3 separate regions of the Homo sapiens genome follow, and all the other regions are linked to region 3. Evidence: fine-mapped expression QTL. A gene starts in region 3. Each other region holds a variant in brackets. All regions are shown on one strand. Distances are between the middles of the regions. Region 1 has its middle 52 kb from the start of IER2. Region 2 overlaps CACNA1A (calcium voltage-gated channel subunit alpha1 A). Region 3 holds the start of CACNA1A (calcium voltage-gated channel subunit alpha1 A).

Region 1 (5,875 bases), 300 kb after region 3:
ATTGCATTCCAGCCTGGGTGACGTAGAAAGATCCCATCTCTAAAAAAATTAAAAGTAAAAATAAATAAATAAAATAATGGCATCTAGGAAAAGATCAGTCCAACGAGAAGTCAAAGTTTTGAGGTCGAGTGCGGTGTCTGACTCTTGTAATCTCAACACTTTGGGAGAATCACTTGAGGCCAGTAGTTCAAGACCAGCCTGGGCAACATAGCAAGACGCTGTCTCTAAAAAAAAAAGTTTGTTTTTTTTAAGGCTGGGTACAGAGGCTCACGCCTGTAATCCCAGCACTTTGGGAGGCCAAGGTGAGCAGATCACCAAGTCAGGAGTTTGAGACCAGCCTGGCCAACATAGTGAAACCCTGTCTCTACTAAAAATAAAAAAATTAGCCAGGTGTGGTGGTGCATGCCTATATTCCCAGATACTTGGCAGGCTGAGGCAGGAAAATCGCTTGAACCTGGGAGGCAGAGGTTGCAGTGAGCTGAGATTGCGTCACTGCACTGCAGCCTGGGCGACAGAGTGAGACTACGTCTCAAAAAAAAAAAAAAAAAAAAATGGAATGGAAGGGAGGGAGGGAGGGGTTTAACTTTCTAACCAGGCAATCTGGCAACCACCACAGGCTTCTAAACAAGCTGCCCATCCATTGCAGAGCTGGCCTCTGGTCCCCCTCCCATGGTGCTGGGGTTGAGTGTGTCCAGGAGCCACTGGAGTAAGCCAGGGTTTGTGCAATTCCCTCTGCTGTCAATGAGGCTGCAGCCATCTGTCCTCCCAGGAATGAAGTTCACTACCGAAGCCCCCCATGAGCCCTGAACTCAAAGGCCAAGTCTATGCCCGAGTGCCAAGAGGTAGACCCAAGGCCTCCACAGTGCACATCATCAGGCTAGAGTGTTAGTTGCCCAGGAGACACAGGGTGGGAAGATCAGGGGATGAGGAAGAGGGGCGGAGCTTGGCCTAGTCCCCAGTCTCACATACTCTCAGGCCATTGCTTGAGCCTCATCACCTGGAAGGTTGGAAGGGCATGATTGTCATAGAAATGCCCTGAGGTGACCGGGCGCGGTGGCTCAAGCCTGTAATCCCAGCACTTTGGGAGGCCGAGGCGGGCAGATCATGAGGTCAGGAGATCAAGACCATCCTGGCTAACACGGTGAAACCCCGTCTCTGCTAAAAATACAAAAAATCAGCCGGGCATAGTGGCAGGCGCCTGTAGTCCCAGCTACTCAGGAGGCTGAGGCAGGAGAATGGCGTGAACCCGGGAGGCAGAGCCTGCAGTGAGCCGAGATCATGCCACTGCACTCCAGCCTGGGCAACAGAGCGAGACTCAAGAAAAAAAAGAAAAAGAAATGCCCTGAGGTGCAAAAGCCCAGGCATTGGCCGGGCGCGGTGTCTCACGCCTGTAACCCCAGCACTTTGGGAGGCCAAGGTGGGTGGACTGCTTGAGCTCAGGAGTTCGAGACCAGCCTGGGCAACATGGCAAGACCTTGTCTCTACTAAAAATAAAAAAAAGCAGAGTGTAGTGGTACATGCCTGTGGTCCCAGCTACTCGAGAGGCTGAGGCAGGAGGATCACTTGAGCCCAGGAGTTCGAGACCAGCCTGGGCAACATGGTGAAACCCCATTCCTACAAAAAATACAAAAATTGGCCAGGCGTGGTGGCTCACGCCTGTAATCCCAGCACTTTGGGAGGCCGAGGTGGGCGGATCACCTGAGGTCGGGAGTTCGAGAACAGCCTGGCCAACATGGAAAAACCCCATCTCTACTAAAAATGCAAAATTAGCCGGGCGTAGTGGCGCATGCCTATAATCCCAGCTACTCGGGAGGCTGAGGCAGGAGAATCACTTGAACCTGGGAGGTGGAGGTTGCAGTGAGCCGAGATCATGCCATTGCGCTCCAGCCTGGGCAACAAAAGCGAAACTCCGTCTCAAAAAATAAATAAATAAATAATACAAAAGTTAGCCCGGCATGGCGGTGCATGCCTGTGGTCTCAGCTACTTGGGAGGCTGAGGTAGGAGGATCACTTGAACCCAGGAGGTCAAGGCATCAGTGACCTATGATCACACCACTGCACTCCAGCCTGGGTGACAGAGCAAAACCCTGTTCCAAAAAAAAAAGAGAGAGAGGGAGACAGAGAGTTATTTTAGGAAGGTTTGTTTATGTAGACTCATCTTGGGACTGACTATCTGCAGTGATAGGAGTCATTCTGCTCTCCCTGGTAAGGAGACGGGGGGATACCTCCACAAAGGAAAATTTATGTCACCTTTTTTTTTGAAACGGAGTCGCACTCTGTTGCCCAGGCTGGAGTGCAGTGGTGCAATCTTGGCTCACTGCAAGCTCTGCCTCCTGGGATCACGCCATTCTCCTGCCTCAGCCTCCTGAGTAGCTGGAACTATAGGTGCCCGCCACCATGCCCAGCTAATTTTTTTGTATTTTTAGTAGAGACAGGGTTTCACCGTGTTAGCCAGGATGGTCTTGATCTCCTGACCTTGTGATCTGCCCGCCTCGGCCTCCCAAAGTGCTGGGATTACAGGAGTGAGCCACCACGCCCAGCCTTATGTCACCTTCTTAAAGAGAAGTTTATGCCTGGCTTTGAGGCAGAAAAGTAGAGAGCAGAGAATTCTTTCTGCCTCTACTGATTTTTTTTTTTTTTTTTTTTTTTTGAGACAGAGTCTCGCTCTGTTGCCCAGGCTGGATTGTAGTGTCAGGATCTCGACTCACTGCAACCTCCACCTCCCAGGTTCAAGGGATTCTTGTGCCTCAGCCTCCCGAGTAGCTGGGACTATAGGTTCCCACCACCATGCCCAGCTAATTTTTTATATTTTCAGTAGAGACAAGGTTTCACCATATTGGCCAGGATGGTCTCCAACTCCTGACCTCAGGTGATCCACCCACCTCGGCCTCCCAAAGTGCTGGGATTATAGGCGTCAGCCACCGCGCCTGGCCATCTACTGATTTTCTATTGCATTCAGCTCAGAATAATTCTTATGCTAAAGTTGATAGATAGATACATAGATAGATACATAGATAGATAGATAGATAGATAGATAGATAGATAGATAGATAATAGATTGTTTGTTTGTTTGTTTGAGACAGGGTCTTGCTCTGTCACCCAGGCTGGAGGGCAGTGGTGCAATCTCGGCTCACTGCAACCTCAGCCTCGCAGCCTCGAGCCATCCTCCCACCTCAGCCTCCCAAGTAGCTGGGACCACAGGTGGATGCCACCATATGCCTGGTGAATTTTTTGTATTTTTGGTAGAGATGGAGTTTTGCCATGTTGCCCAGGCTGGTCTCGAACTCCCGAGCTCAAATGATCCACTCACCTCCACCTCCCAGAGTGCTGGATTACAGGCGTGAGTCACTGTGCCCGGTCTCTAAGTGATATATTTTTAAGAGTAACATATCCTGATCCCCTTCAGCTGCCGTCAGAGAACTGGGGTGGGGACGTGGAAGGGTGACATCGCTCTGCTGGAGGACTTGTGAGAGAGCC[C/A]AGACTGTGCAGGGGGCCCAGCCAGAGCACCCCAGCTTCCAGGACTGGAACCCCAGCCTCAGGAACTCAGGGCAACGCTGGGGTGAAGGCTCAACTTTAGGGAAATACCCGGAAGCAGAGAGGATGGGGTCAGGACACCCAGCCAGGAAGCTGCATTTATTTCACTGTGCATTGGAGAAAGCCCCACCAGCCCAGCAAAGCCAGTCTCTTACAGATACCAATGATTAAAGTGATAAAACAGGGCCGGGCACGGTGGCTCACGCCTGTAATCCCAGCACTTTGGAAGCCTGAGGCAGGCAGATCATGGAGGTCAGGAGTTTGAGAACAGCCTGGCCAACATGGCAAAACCCCGTCTCTACTGTACAAAAATTAGACAGGGGAGGTGGCGTGCACCTGTAGTCCCAGCTACTCAGGAGGCCAAGGCAGGAGAATCACTTGAACCCTGGAGGTTGCAGTGAGCCAAGATCACACCACTGCACTCCAGCCTGGGCGATGGAGAGAGGCTCTGTCTCAAAAAAATAAATAAATTTAAAAAACTGGGCCAGGCACAGAGGCTCACGCCTATAATCCCAGCACTTTGGAAGGCCGAGGCGAGCAGATCACCTGAGGTCGGGAGTTCCAGACCAGCCTGACCAACGTGGAGAAACCCCATCTCTACTAAAAATACAAAGTTAGCTGGGTGTGGTGGTGCATGCCTGTAATCCCAGCTACTCGGGAGGCTGAGGCAGGACAATCGCTTGAACCCGGGAGGCGGAGGTTGCAGTGAGCCGAGATCGCACCACTGTACTCCAGCCTGGGTGACGGAGCAAGGCTCTTTCTCAAAAAAAAAATTTAAAAGAAGTGATAAAACAGGCCAGGTGCAGTGGCTCATGCCTATAATCCAATATTTTGGGAGGCTGAGGTGGGAGGATCACCTGAGCCCAGGAGGTTGAAGCTTCAGTGAGCTGTCATCACACCACTGTACTCCAGCCTGGGTGACAGAGCGAAACCCTATCTCAAAAAAAAAAAAAAAGATAAAATGTTTCAAGTTAAAAAAAAAAAAAAAGTGGCCAGGCGCAGTGGCTGATGCCTGTAATCCCAGCACTTTGGGAGGCCGAGGCAGGTAGATCACAAGGTCAGGAGTTCGAGACCAGCCTAGCCAACATGGTGAAACCCCGTCTCTACTAAAAAATACAGAAATTAGCCAGGTGTGGCAGCGGGTGCCTGTAATCCCACCTACTCAGGAGACTGAGGCAGGAGAATCGCTTGAACACGGGAGGCAGAGGTTGCAGTGAGACAAGATTGCACCACTGCACTCCAGCCTGGGTGACAGAGCCTCCAGTCTGGGAGATAGAGCAAGGCATCATCTCAAAAAAAAAAAAAAAAAAAAAAAATTAAAGAAGTCAGGTGTGGTAGCAAGCACCTGTAGTCCCAGCTAAGGCTAAGGCGAGAGGATCACTTGAGCCCAGGAGTTTGAGAGCAGACTGGGCAACCTAGCAAGAACCCATCTCAAAAAAAAATTAAAGAAATAGGAGTTGGGCCAGGCATGGTGGCTCATGCCTGTAATCCCAGCACTTCGGGAGGCCGAGGTGGGTGCATCACCTGAGGTCAGGAGTTCAAGACCAGCCTGGACAACATGATGAAACCCCATCTCTACTAAAAATACAAAAATCAGCCAGGTGTGGTAGCGGGCACCTGTAATCCCAGCTACTCAGGAGGCTGAGGCAGGAGAATTGGCTTGAACCTGGGAAGCGGAGGTCGTAGTGAGCCGAGATCATGCCACTGCACTCCAGCCTGGGAGACAGAGGGAAACTCCGTCTCAAAAAAATAAAATAAAATAAAAAATTAAAGAAATAGGAGTTGTATTAGTCTCTTCCTGTGGCTGCTGTAATAAATTATCACAGGCTGGGTGGCTTACAATAGCAGACATTTGGCTGGGCACAGTGGTTTACACACATAATCCCAGCACTCTGGGAGGCCGAGGCAGGCGGATCACCTGAGATCAGGAGTTCAAGACCAGCATGGCCAACATGGAGAAACCCCTTCTCTACTAAAAATACAAAAATAAATAAATAAATAACCAGGCATTGTGGCAGACACCTGTAGTCCCAGCTACTCAGGAGGCTGAGACAAGAGAATCGCTTGAACCTGGGAGACGGAGGCTGCAGTGAGCCAAGATCGCATCATCGCCCTCCAGCCTGGGCAACAAGAGCGAACCTCTGTCTCAAAAAAAAAAAAAGTCAGGGCTGGGCGTGGTGGCTCAAGCCTGTAATCCCAGCACTCTAGGAGGCCGAGGCAGGTGGATCACAAGGTCAGCAGTTCGAGACCAGCCTGACCAACATGGTGAAACCCCGTCTCTACTAAAAATACAAAAAAAAATACCTGAGCATGGTGGTGGGCGCCTGTAATCCCAGTGACT
Region 2 (5,818 bases), 200 kb after region 3:
CCTGTCTTAGTCTGCTCAGGCAGCCATAACAAAATACCACACACTGGGTGGCTTATACAGGAAACATTTATTCTCTCATAGTTCTGGAGGCCGGGAAGTCCAAGATCAAAGTGTTAGCAGGGTTAGTTAGTTCCTGGTGAGGGCCCTCTTCCTAGCTTGCAGATAGCCACCTTCTTGCTGTGTCCTCATATGTCAAAGAGAGAGAGAGAGAGTTGTGATGTTTCTTCCTGTTCTTTTTTTTTTTTTTTTTTTGAGACAAAAATCTCAAAAAAAAATCTATTTTTTTTTTAGGCAAATCACATTTTTTTGTCACCCAGCCTGGAGTGCAGTGGCACAATCATAGCTCACTGCAGCCTCAAACTCCTAGGTTCAAACGATCCTCCCACCTCAGCCCCTTGAGTAGCTGGGACTACAGATGGGCACCAGCTAATTTTTTTAAATTTTTTGTAAAGATGGGGTCTTGCTATATTGCCCAGGCTAATCTTGAACTCCTGGGCTCAAGTGATCCTCCCACCTTGGCCTCCCAAAGTGCTGGGATTACAGGCATGAGCCATGGCATGCGGTCTCTTCCTGTTCTTATAAGGGCACTAATACCATCATGAAGTCCCCCATGACCTCATCTAACCCTAGTTACCTCTTAAAGGCCCCATCTCCAAATACCATCCCATCATAGGTTAGGGCTTCAACTCATGAATTTGGAGGCGGGCACAATTTAGTCCATAACAAATCCCCTTAATCACATCAAGTAAGACAGAGTTACAGGAGGGTCTGTGACTCCTCCAGGGTCCCATTTTCCTAGAAGCCAGGCTAAGAGCCCCACGACGCAGGAACGGCCCTTTCTACTCGCAAACAAAGAGAAAAGCCAAGGAGAAGCCAACACGGAGTCTGGCTCTGCAAACCGGGCAGGATTGTTAAAGACCTCCTGGGCTCGGGGATGGGGTGGGCGGATTCCGGCTCCACAGCTGCATCTCCAAGGGGCCCGTGGCTGAGAGGGGGGTTGGCTGTGTGTTTCTTCCTCCCCTTTCAGATCCTGACGGGCGAAGACTGGAACGAGGTCATGTACGACGGGATCAAGTCTCAGGGGGGCGTGCAGGGCGGCATGGTGTTCTCCATCTATTTCATTGTACTGACGCTCTTTGGGAACTGTATCCTTCATGGAGAGAGAGAAGGGGACAGGCCTGGACCTCTGGCAGAGGAGAGGTTGCAGGGGCTCAAGGGAGGGTACTGAGAGACCCAGATACCCAGGGCCCAAGTGGTGTCCCACCAGTGGTTGCTTTTCCTGACTCAGACATTTGCAGACACCCTCCTGAATGTGTTCTTGGCCATCGCTGTGGACAATCTGGCCAACGCCCAGGAGCTCACCAAGGTGGAGGCGGTGGGAGAATGTTTCTCTGGCAAAGTTACCACCTGCCCATGGCAGATCAGGACGGGGGTGGGGGTGGGGGTGGGGGTGGGGGTGGGGGCATGGGAACAGGGTTAGAACTTTTGCCGGGGATGCACCATGCAAAGAGAAGGCGCCTCTCCCCCCACTCCCAGAAACAGACTGTCCCTCATCAAGCAAATTCTACAGCCAAGAGGGTGGGAAGGGGGAAGGCAGTGAGGTCGCTGCAGGAAACGGATGGCAAACTCAACCAAAAGGCCGTTTACAGGGAGTAAGCAGGGTTTCCAAGGAATGGTGTAGCCCCCAGGCTAGTGGATGGGAGAGGGAGTGCTGTTATGGGGACCCAGTCAGAGCTGGGGCCAAGGAAAAAGGGCTGCCACCAGCCCTGGGACCTTAGAGAACCCAGAACCATGGCAAGGCACAGATGGAGTGGCCAATAAATGTCCCCACCTTCTCTCTTCCTCTGGCTTCCCGCTGGAGCCTCCCCTTAGCCAAACGCAGCATGTTAAGAGCTAGCCTCCGTCCAGCCTAAGCCTCTCCCCAAGGACCCTATTAAGTTAAGATTACATGTAACAGGTACAGGGTCTTCCTCTCAGCCCTGGGGTCTCCCTCAGCATTGCAGCCCCACCTCCAGTGCCTCGAGGTATTCAGGACATGTTTGTGAAATTGAACCAAACCAAGCAGACGTTGCCAACGCTCCATCTGCCGGCCCTGGCAGGAGGGAGAGAGAGTTTCCCGGCCCCAGCTCCCAGTGGAGGGAAGCGGAAGTCTCTGCCATCCCAAGCACACGGCCACAAGCCTGGCCACTGTGGAGCTGGCTGGCATGGCTGAGCCGAGGGCTGATCCAGCCATGAGCTCATCCAAGTTCCAAGAGTCCATCCTTAGGGGCTGGTGCAGGAGGGTAGCAGAAGGGGAGGGAGAAAGGCCAGTTCGTTTATCTCCTGGGAGGTGTGGACATTCCTCTCCAGATCCACATTCTTTCTTTCATTGATCCTACAAGCATTTCTTGGTCATTTAATACGTGTTTTTAATCCTATTCAGTCCTCATGGAAACCTTAGGAGCCAAGTTCTCTGAGCCCCATTTTACAGATTTCATCATTCAGTAAGCACTTAATGAGCACCTACTGTGTGACCAAGGCCCTGGTCTAGGACTTAGGGATTAAGCAGTGAACAAAAAAAGGCAAAAATCCCTGCCTCCGTGGAGCAGGGATTCAAGAGGGGAGACAGACAAGAAACAAGATAAATTTGTAAACATACGTAGCTTGTCAGTTGGTGATAAACACAACAGAGAAAAATTCAGTAGGGAAAGTCAGGGAGAGTTGGAATTTTAGATGAGATGTGTGTCGCACAGAGAGGTTGAGAGACTTGCCCAAGGCCACACAGCAGTAAGTTGTGGAGCTGGGATTTGAACCCAGGCCGTCTGGGTCTGCAGCTTGTGCTCTTAACTGCTGTGTACCAGTTGCTTGAATTTGGGCATGTTTTATGCTCACTTGGGAACCTGTGGGAAATGCAGATTCCAGGGCCCAGCACTGGTTCTATAGATTATTTGGGGAGCCTGAGGATCTGCATTTTAGGTGTTTCTGAGGCAGATGGTCCAGAGACCTAGCTCTGAAAAATGCTGGGAATGGTGCCAGGAGGGGTGGGGGTGGCCCTATGAGAGCAGGGTGGCCAGCCAGATCCCATCTCCATGTTGTCTCTGACAGTGTCCTGATCTGACCATTTCCAAGGTGGTAAGGTTGCTCCCCGTTCCAGTGATTCGGAGCACAGCGGGAGAGCTGCCTGCAATGGCATGACTTTTCTTATGGGCGGGTTCATTTCTGGCCATTTCTTTCTCGTTGCCTTTTCTTTGCTTTTTCTTTGTTGGCTTTTCTGTTTTACGAATGAG[G/A]CCCTGCATGAAGGCTGAAGAAGGATTTAAAGTCCAAAAACGTCTTTTTCTGTATGTATTTTTAAAACCTCTTCCCCCATTCTCCTCCTCTCTGAACCTAACCACCAGTGAGCAGCAGCACCCTGGGCAGTTGGCTGTAGCCCAAGTGCCCTGCTCTCCTCTCCCCACCGCCTTCCTGTCATGGGGGCTGGGAATATAAATTCCTCTCCTCATTCTCCTTCTGGGGGCTGTTGACAGTGCATGGCAGGGGCCATCGGATGCCAGGCTCTTCTGTGTGTGAGGGTAGTTGGTGTTTTTTGAAAGTTGGTTCAGAGAGTTCACATGGCTCAGAAAGCCTAGTGAGAGGAAAATCTTTGCACTGCTTTCCAGCTCATTAAGACAGGATGCAGGGGCCAGGCATGGTGGCACATGCCTGGAATCCCAGCACTTTGGGAGGCCGAAATGGGAGGATCATTTGAGGCCAGAAGTTCAAGACCAGCCTGGGCAACATAGTGAGACCCTGTCTCTACAAAAAAAAAAAAAAAATTAAATGTATACAGGCATAGTGGCATGCACCTGTAGTCCCAGTTGCTTGGGAGGCTGAGGTGGGAGGATTGCTTGAGCCCAGGAGTTCAAGGTTACAGTGAGCTATGATTGTGCCACTGCACTCCAGGCTGGGCAACCAAGGGAGACTCTGTCTCTGAAAACAAACAAAAGAAAAAAAAATAGGCTGCAGGAAAGTCTTCATTGTAGGAAGAGAAGGGACATTTTTATTTTTTGTTATCTGGCTGTGTGTTAAAATAGGCTTCATAATGAGTTAGATGTCAAACTTATACACAGAGGGGATAGCAATACACTTAACCAATAGCAGGTACCCATTCCAATTGGGGAGCCTTGGTTCTGATTGGTCGAAATATTTCAAATGTTGCCCCTGGTCAGCAACAGGGTCAGAAGTGAGTCCCCAAGGCCTAGTTCATGTTTTGTGAACAAAGATTCCACGTGCCTTTTAGGACGAGCAAGAGGAAGAAGAAGCAGCGAACCAGAAACTTGCCCTACAGAAAGCCAAGGAGGTGGCAGAAGTGAGTCCTCTGTCCGCGGCCAACATGTCTATAGCTGTGTAAGTGCCCCTAATCCCTGGGATGCTACCCTGGCTCCTGAACGTCCACACTATCCCAGGCACAGATTTGGGAAGCAGTGGGGGTGGTCCTTGACAGAACTGAGCTTTAGGAAGAGACACTTCTTGTCCTTCCACCCACTTTCACTCAATAAATATTTGGTTAGCAGCTGTTATGTACCCAGCACTGTTCTAACTTCTGGGGATACAGCATTAACAAGGAGGAAAAAAAAAATCCCACCTGTGTGTAGCCATTCTAGCAAGGGAAGGAGTCAATAAATTAGATAAATAAGTAAATTATATATTGTGTTAGAAGGCGATGGAACTACAGAGAAAGTAGGGGAGGGAAATAGCAAATGCTGGGAGTGAAGAGAGTTGTGATTTTAAACGAAGTTGTCAGGGAAGGCATCACCTAGAATAGGGGTCCCCAGTCCCGGGGCTGTGGACTGGTACCAGGCCGAGGCCTATTAGGAACGGGGCTGCACAGCAGGAGGTGAACAGTGAGCAAGCAAGCATTACCGCCTGAGCTCCACCTGCCGTCAGATCAGCAGGCAGCATTAGATTCTCATAGGAACACAAACACTATTGTGAACGGTGCATCTGAGGGATCTAGGTTGCGTGCTCCTTTTAAGAATCGAATGCCTGATGATCTCAGGTGAAACAGTTTCATCCCAAAACCACCCCCCACACCTAGGTCTGTGGAAAAACTGTCTTCCACAAAACTGGCCCCTGGTGCCAAAAAGGTTGGGGACTGCTCACCTAGAAGGTTACATGGCCTGAAGGAGGTGAGGGAGGAGCCACTGGGGGGCCTGGGGAAGGGCATCCCAGGCAGAGGGAACAGCATAGGCAATGGCCCTGAGGCAGGAACATGCCTGATGTGAAGGAGGCCTGTGTGACTAGAATCGAATAGTAAGTGTGAGGAGGTGAAGGCAAGGAGGTGACAAGCAGATTACACAGGGCCTTCTGGGTCAGGGGGGAGGACTTGGGCTTTTGCCCCTAGCCAGGTGGGAGCCATGGAGGGTTCTTGAGCAGAGGAGGCTGGGACCTGACTCAGATGCTCACAGACTCCTAGCATTCAGTGGGGAGTAGAGGGTGGAGAGCAGGAGTGGGAGGCTGAGATGTGGGTTGGTTCGCCTGGGTCATCCATCCAAGCTACAGTGCCTAGCAATGCTCTAAGTCCTGTGACCATGCCACTGCAGGAAAGAGCAACAGAAGAATCAAAAGCCAGCCAAGTCCGTGTGGGAGCAGCGGACCAGTGAGATGCGAAAGCAGAACTTGCTGGCCAGCCGGGAGGCCCTGTATAACGAAATGGACCCGGACGAGCGCTGGAAGGCTGCCTACACGCGGCACCTGCGGCCAGACATGAAGACGCACTTGGACCGGCCGCTGGTGGTGGACCCGCAGGAGAACCGCAACAACAACACCAACAAGAGCCGGGCGGCCGAGCCCACCGTGGACC
Region 3 (5,875 bases):
GACTCAGTGGGAGATTTACCCTGGCAGGAGCTCCATCAGTGAGATGTCACTCTTTCCTGAAAAACTCTGGGGTCTTCACAGATCTATGCAGGTAATGCTCCTGCTCTAAAACTGAATAATCTTCTCAGAGAGGTCCATCAGAACAAATGATAAGTTCAACTCAGCTCCTCTCATATGACTGGTTCTTCCCATCTGAACACATGGGCTCGCTTCTTGTTTCATATTAGTTGCTGTTCACCTTTTATATCTGAAACAATGTCAAGTACAAAAATCACTGATATTTGGTGAGCGCCTTAAAAGCCCCTCCTTCTCCCTGAATCCCACACAATTCTATCTCCTTGCAATTCCAATCACTCTTGGTTTAATCATTTCATCCATATCGTGACAAGTTAGAAAATCTTGAAAGTGCTATGGGGCAATGTATAATAGTTGGTGCATTGGCACAGAACGGGGACTTTATATAAAGACATATCATCTTTCCAGAGTGTTCCAAAAGAACTCGAATATTGATATGTGTGTGTGGGGTGGCGAGGGGGGAAGGGAATTAACTAGGATTTAACTAGCTAAGGCTTGAAAGAATATTTGCCTTTTTCATCCTTTTCCCATTCCTCTCCATTTGGCCTTTCTGCGTATACAAGCTCCATGAAAATTCAATGGTTTCTTGGTACATTGAATTTGCAAGACAGTTTGATGACATCTTATAAGCTTGAAGATATGAATACCTTGTGGACCCAGACATTCCACACCTAAGGCTATTCCTAGAGACATGCATTCTTATCTGCACCAAAGGTACCTGAGGCAGTAATGTTTAATAGCCCCAACTGGAAAAAAAACAGATACCCATCAACAAGATGATGGATAAACAAATTGTGGCATATTCTCTTGATGAAATACTATACAGCAGTGAAAGTGAATGAATCACAGCCATGTGTGACAACAAACAGGTGAATTTTTCTAAAATTCGAAACAGATTAGGATGTATGAATCTTGTTTTTTTTGTTTGTTTGTTTTTGTTTTGTTTTGTTTTGTTTGACAGAGTCTCACTTTGTTGCCCAGGCTGGAGGGCAGTGGTTTGATCTTGGCTCACTGCAACATCCTGGACTCAAGGGATCTTCCCATCTCAGCCTCCTAAGTAGCTGGGACTAGGTTCACATCACCATGCCTGGTTAATTTTTATTTTAAAAAAGGTTTTTGGAGAGACAGGGTCTTGCTATATTGCCCAGGCTTGTCTCAAACCCCTGGCCTCAAGCAATCCTCATGCTCTGCCTCCCAAAGTGCTGGGATTACAGGCGCAGACACCGTGCCCTGCCAGATGAATCTTAAAGACATAATGTTGAACCGAAGAAACAAGAAACTGTAGAATATATACTATATGATTATTCCATTTATATAAAAGCCCAAAAGAAGCAAAGTAAAATTGTATTGGTTAGGAACGCATAATAAGGTAGTCAAACTTTTTTTAAAAAAGCAAGATATGAATACCATAAAGTCAGGTAGCGATTATTGCTGGAATAAGGGGCTGTGTAAGCGTGTTGGCAAAGGGGGTTCTGCAGAGGTGGTGATGTTCCATTTCTAGCCCTAGACTTGATTTCATGAGTGTTCATTTCAGACCAATTTCTTAACTCCGTACCTTTATGTTTTATGCATTTTTCTTTGTGCTTATTGAATTTCACCACACAAAAAGCAGAATGGGAAGTAATCAAAGTGGTTCTGGAGAGACGTGAGTATCAAGCAAACTATACCACCCAGAACCCCTATCCAGCCAACTAGGACCTGGTTAATTATTTCCTCCTGGGAGTTCAGACTTGTCACCTCTGGGGTCTCCAAGGTAGAATAAACCTTTAATTCCAACTTGCAGGAGTCCTTGTGATTTGAAACGTTCACAGAAGTAACCCCAAACCACTCTCTCCACTTTCAAAAATGGTCTTTTGCTAAACAGAGCAAATTTGTTTAGAGACTGACGAATCGCACCTCTAGACACAAATCCCCTTCTCTTTTCTGTCTTTTAAGTTTTTTTCCTGCCTCCATCCTGCCTTCTCCTTGCAAGATGCTGGGGAGCGTCCGGCTGTCTGCAACCGAAATGGAACGGGGTGGAAAACAGGCTTTCCTCCCAGGGGAGGAGGAAGCACCCCAATTCCCCCCTCCCTGCCTCCCAACCATGCGACGCTCCCCTCTCTCCCCCACAAACTCCGCTGAGCCCGGTACCCCCGCGCCTCCACGAGCCTCCACGATTGGTCGCGGGCCCTCATGTGTCGACACTCTGGGTGGGTCCTTCTACTGTTAAACTCATCAATTGCTCCCCTTTTCCGTTTGCTGGCCAGTGGTTCAGACCTTTGCGCCCATTTTTTTTTCCTCTTTACCTTCTTCTACCCGCAACCCTCCACACCAGTCTTATTTTAGCAAAACCTAGAGAAGGAGGAGGTGGAGGGATTTGGAGGGTGGAGAGGCATTGCCGCATCCAGGGGCAGCTATTGAGTGGCTAAGCGGAGGGCGCATACCTCTCTCTCTCTCTCTTTTCCCCCTGTTGGGAATTTTCAGGATTTCACTGCTGCAATTTAACCCCAAGATGAGGCACCATTGAGCGAAACGCTGTGCGCACATACACACTCACACTTCCTCCGGGAGCAGAAGAGGCAGCCGTTGGTGATTCAGGAAGAAAAAAAATTTTTTTTTTTTTTTTTAAACCTGGACCCTGCGGTGTGAAGACTCCTTAGGAACCCTCTGGAGCGTCTTACTCCCCTTCCCTCCTCTTTCCCTTCCCTTTCATCTTCTTTGTTTTTATTTTATTTTATTTTTGGAGCTACAGATCTTTCAGCATTTTTAAGGTCTAGGAACTCCAGCAAAACAGAAGGGCACTTAATTTTTTTTTTTTTTTTTTTTGCCCTCCCCACCCAGACCTGGGTTTCGTCTTTCTTTATTTTTAAATATATATATATTTTTTTATTTTTTATTTTTTATTTTTTTTTAATGGGCCGAGCGCACTCCTTTTGCAAGATGCCAGCCTGACCCGGACCTCGGAGGAATTTGAAGCTTCCACTGCGTCCCGGGGGGGGCGTCCTTTGCAAACCGTTCGCGTCTTAAAGGGGGTGTGCGTTGGGTGGATTTTTTTTTTTTAACTGTCTCTTTTTTTTTTTTTCCGGAGTGGGTGGACTGGGGATTGCCTGGATTCCTTCCTCGGTTATTTTTTGCCTCGCTTCTCTCTCCCCTCCCCCCTCCTCCCCGGGCCCCCGCGCCCCGCCCCCGCACCCTCCTCCCGCCCCTCCTTCTCCGGGGTCAGCCAGGAAGATGTCCCGAGCTGCTATCCCCGGCTCGGCCCGGGCAGCCGCCTTCTGAGCCCCCGACCCGAGGCGCCGAGCCGCCGCCGCCCGATGGGCTGGGCCGTGGAGCGTCTCCGCAGTCGTAGCTCCAGCCGCCGCGCTCCCAGCCCCGGCAGCCTCAGCATCAGCGGCGGCGGCGGCGGCGGCGGCGTCTTCCGCATCGTTCGCCGCAGCGTAACCCGGAGCCCTTTGCTCTTTGCAGAATGGCCCGCTTCGGAGACGAGATGCCGGCCCGCTACGGGGGAGGAGGCTCCGGGGCAGCCGCCGGGGTGGTCGTGGGCAGCGGAGGCGGGCGAGGAGCCGGGGGCAGCCGGCAGGGCGGGCAGCCCGGGGCGCAAAGGATGTACAAGCAGTCAATGGCGCAGAGAGCGCGGACCATGGCACTCTACAACCCCATCCCCGTCCGACAGAACTGCCTCACGGTTAACCGGTCTCTCTTCCTCTTCAGCGAAGACAACGTGGTGAGAAAATACGCCAAAAAGATCACCGAATGGCCATATCCTTTTGCCCGAACCCCAGCAGCAGCTGCGCCTCCCCCTCCTCCCTCCGCCTCCCCTCTTCCAGGCTGGGAGAGAGACCCGGGGGTTGATGGGAGGTGGGGAGGAGGGGGGTCTTCCAGGGGCTGGGAGAGGGGGCACCGGGAGGAGTGTGAAAGAATCTCTCCACCCCGAGCTGGGTTGAGCTACCCTGGAGGCTTGGGAATGGGTTTGTGGGGGGCTGGGGGGTGGGCAGCGGAGAGTGGATCCTTCCCAAGGACCGACTCTAGAATGAGATCTGGGGCCTGGGGTCGTGCAGGAGCCTTGGTGGGGGCTTTCGAGCCAAGTCCGGAGGGTTTGGAGTTCTACGGAGTGAGCTTGGAGCGGGCTCGGGCCTGGGCGCTTCTGGCCAGGGCAGGGGAACTATGGGGGCCTTGGTTGGGTTTTCTTGGCCGTCGCTCACTGGAGTCCACGCAGGGGAAGCTGGACAGCCTCTCCACTACTGCTTTCCCCAAGGTGGGGGGCCGCCGCACTTTTAGGGCAGGGCGCTTGGGGGCTCCCAGGGCTAAGAGCAAGAGGGAGTCCATGTGGCCTTCACACTGAGAAGCCAGCACTGGCCGAAGTGAGTACCCCAGGGTGGGCCGCTGTTCCTATCTGGAGAGGATAGTGATGGGCTGGGGGGCGCTTATGTTTCCCTCATGTGTGCAGGTCCCATTGCCTTTAACCGCTGATTGGGGAACCTCATCATCTTTGGGGGTGTCGAGAAAGAGATCCCACTTGCTTTATCTGGGCCCCTGGCCTGGGAAGACCTGATCTGGACACTTTCAGTAAGAAAGACAGGGCAACAGCAAATGAGGTGGTGGGTCCATTTTAGAGCACCATGTCCAGCTTTTCCTACCCCGAGTAGCCGAGAGGGAACACCAGGAGAATCAGCACCCATGTGGACATCTTAGGTAGGTAAATGCCTTTTAAATTTTTTTTTTTTTAATCAAAGATCCAGAGGAAAAAGGTGAAGCCCACATTTTCTTCTGTGGAGATGCTATCAAAATGCAGATCTTCTGTGTTTCTTTAAATCCCTGCCTGCTTGAAATAAACCTTGAGGAGGGCTTAACATCTATCGAGATGTAGGCAGGCAAGGGTGGGTAATTAGTCGGGCTTTCTAGCAGTTATCTAAGCATGACCCAGATTCCAGGAGGGGGGACACACCCTGCTGCCCAGGCTGGCTGGCCACTGTGCCATGCCCAGATGTGCCGCTTCTCCGCACAGTTCCAACCAGCTGCCCTCTGTGTAAAAATGAACGGGCTGGATGGGTCCCTGGGGCTCAGCGATGAGTCCCCTATCCCTTTTGTATGTGGTTTTGCAGTTATAGACTAAACGGGGCTGGGCCCTGTGTGGTCTCCGGGGGTTGCTGTTTGAGGAGCATGGCGGGTGGTAGAGGGACTCACTTCAGGGGGGTTCAAAATCGAGCCTGGCGCTTGGATCCTGGGTGCTGGGATTGCAACAGAGGGCACTGAGGTTTTGGAGTGTGTGAGTGGTCTACTTTGAGGGTGGGGAAAATTAAGAAGTTCAGCAGAGGTGCTTTTGAGGGGAGCATACCTCTAACTACGATGCCATCTCCGTTGGTGCCCAAAGCAGGTGCCAGGTCTTTGCTTCCTAAGTTTCAGACTCTTAAAGAGGCTGGTTCTTAAGGTTAGCAATTCCTCACCATCCCAGGCCCATTGAAGTGCTCAGGGGTGGCTTGATTACTCTGCCTATCAACAGAGTGAGGAGTGGGAGTGCCTTGCAGGAGGACAGGGTATTCATGGGTGCACACCCAGTTAGCTCCAGGAGTGAGAGGGCTTTGCTCGGCTGACAGGTTTCCTCATTGAAAATGGCTTTAGATCGCCTTCTGGAGCCTGGATTTGGAGACTTCTAAGAGGAAAGGAAGGAGGTGGGGAGCCCTTCTGCTGTGTCCTTAGCTTACCTCTGTCCAGCCTGAATCCTGCAGATTGGAGGGCTGTTGGGGGAGAGGGGGATTGCAGTGGCCCCTCGGAAGGGGGAATCGTGGGAGAGGGAGGCAGGTGAATTGCGAGTGTTGCTTGC

The links.
Region 1: its variant is fine-mapped to the expression of CACNA1A in whole blood (TOPMed, PIP above 0.99).
Region 2: its variant is fine-mapped to the expression of CACNA1A in tibial nerve (GTEx, PIP above 0.99).

The regions. Positions count from the first base shown.
Region 1 is chr19:13,199,459-13,205,333 of GRCh38, reverse strand. No RefSeq gene overlaps it. Among named protein-coding and RNA genes, the nearest start is that of IER2, 52 kb to the right of the region's middle. RefSeq lists a silencer at 2,063-2,263. The variant C/A (reference allele first, on the strand shown) is at 3,478.
Region 2 is chr19:13,299,094-13,304,911 of GRCh38, reverse strand. It overlaps CACNA1A (calcium voltage-gated channel subunit alpha1 A), which reads left to right. Exons shown (of 47, transcript NM_001127222.2): 16 at 1,028-1,145; 17 at 1,299-1,366; 18 at 4,256-4,362; 19 at 5,559-5,818. Among named protein-coding and RNA genes, the nearest start is that of IER2, 150 kb to the right of the region's middle. The variant G/A (reference allele first, on the strand shown) is at 3,267.
Region 3 is chr19:13,503,870-13,509,744 of GRCh38, reverse strand. CACNA1A (calcium voltage-gated channel subunit alpha1 A) reads left to right here and starts at 3,266. Exons shown (of 47, transcript NM_001127222.2): 1 at 3,266-3,813. The coding sequence starts at 3,521. RefSeq lists an enhancer at 1,698-2,224.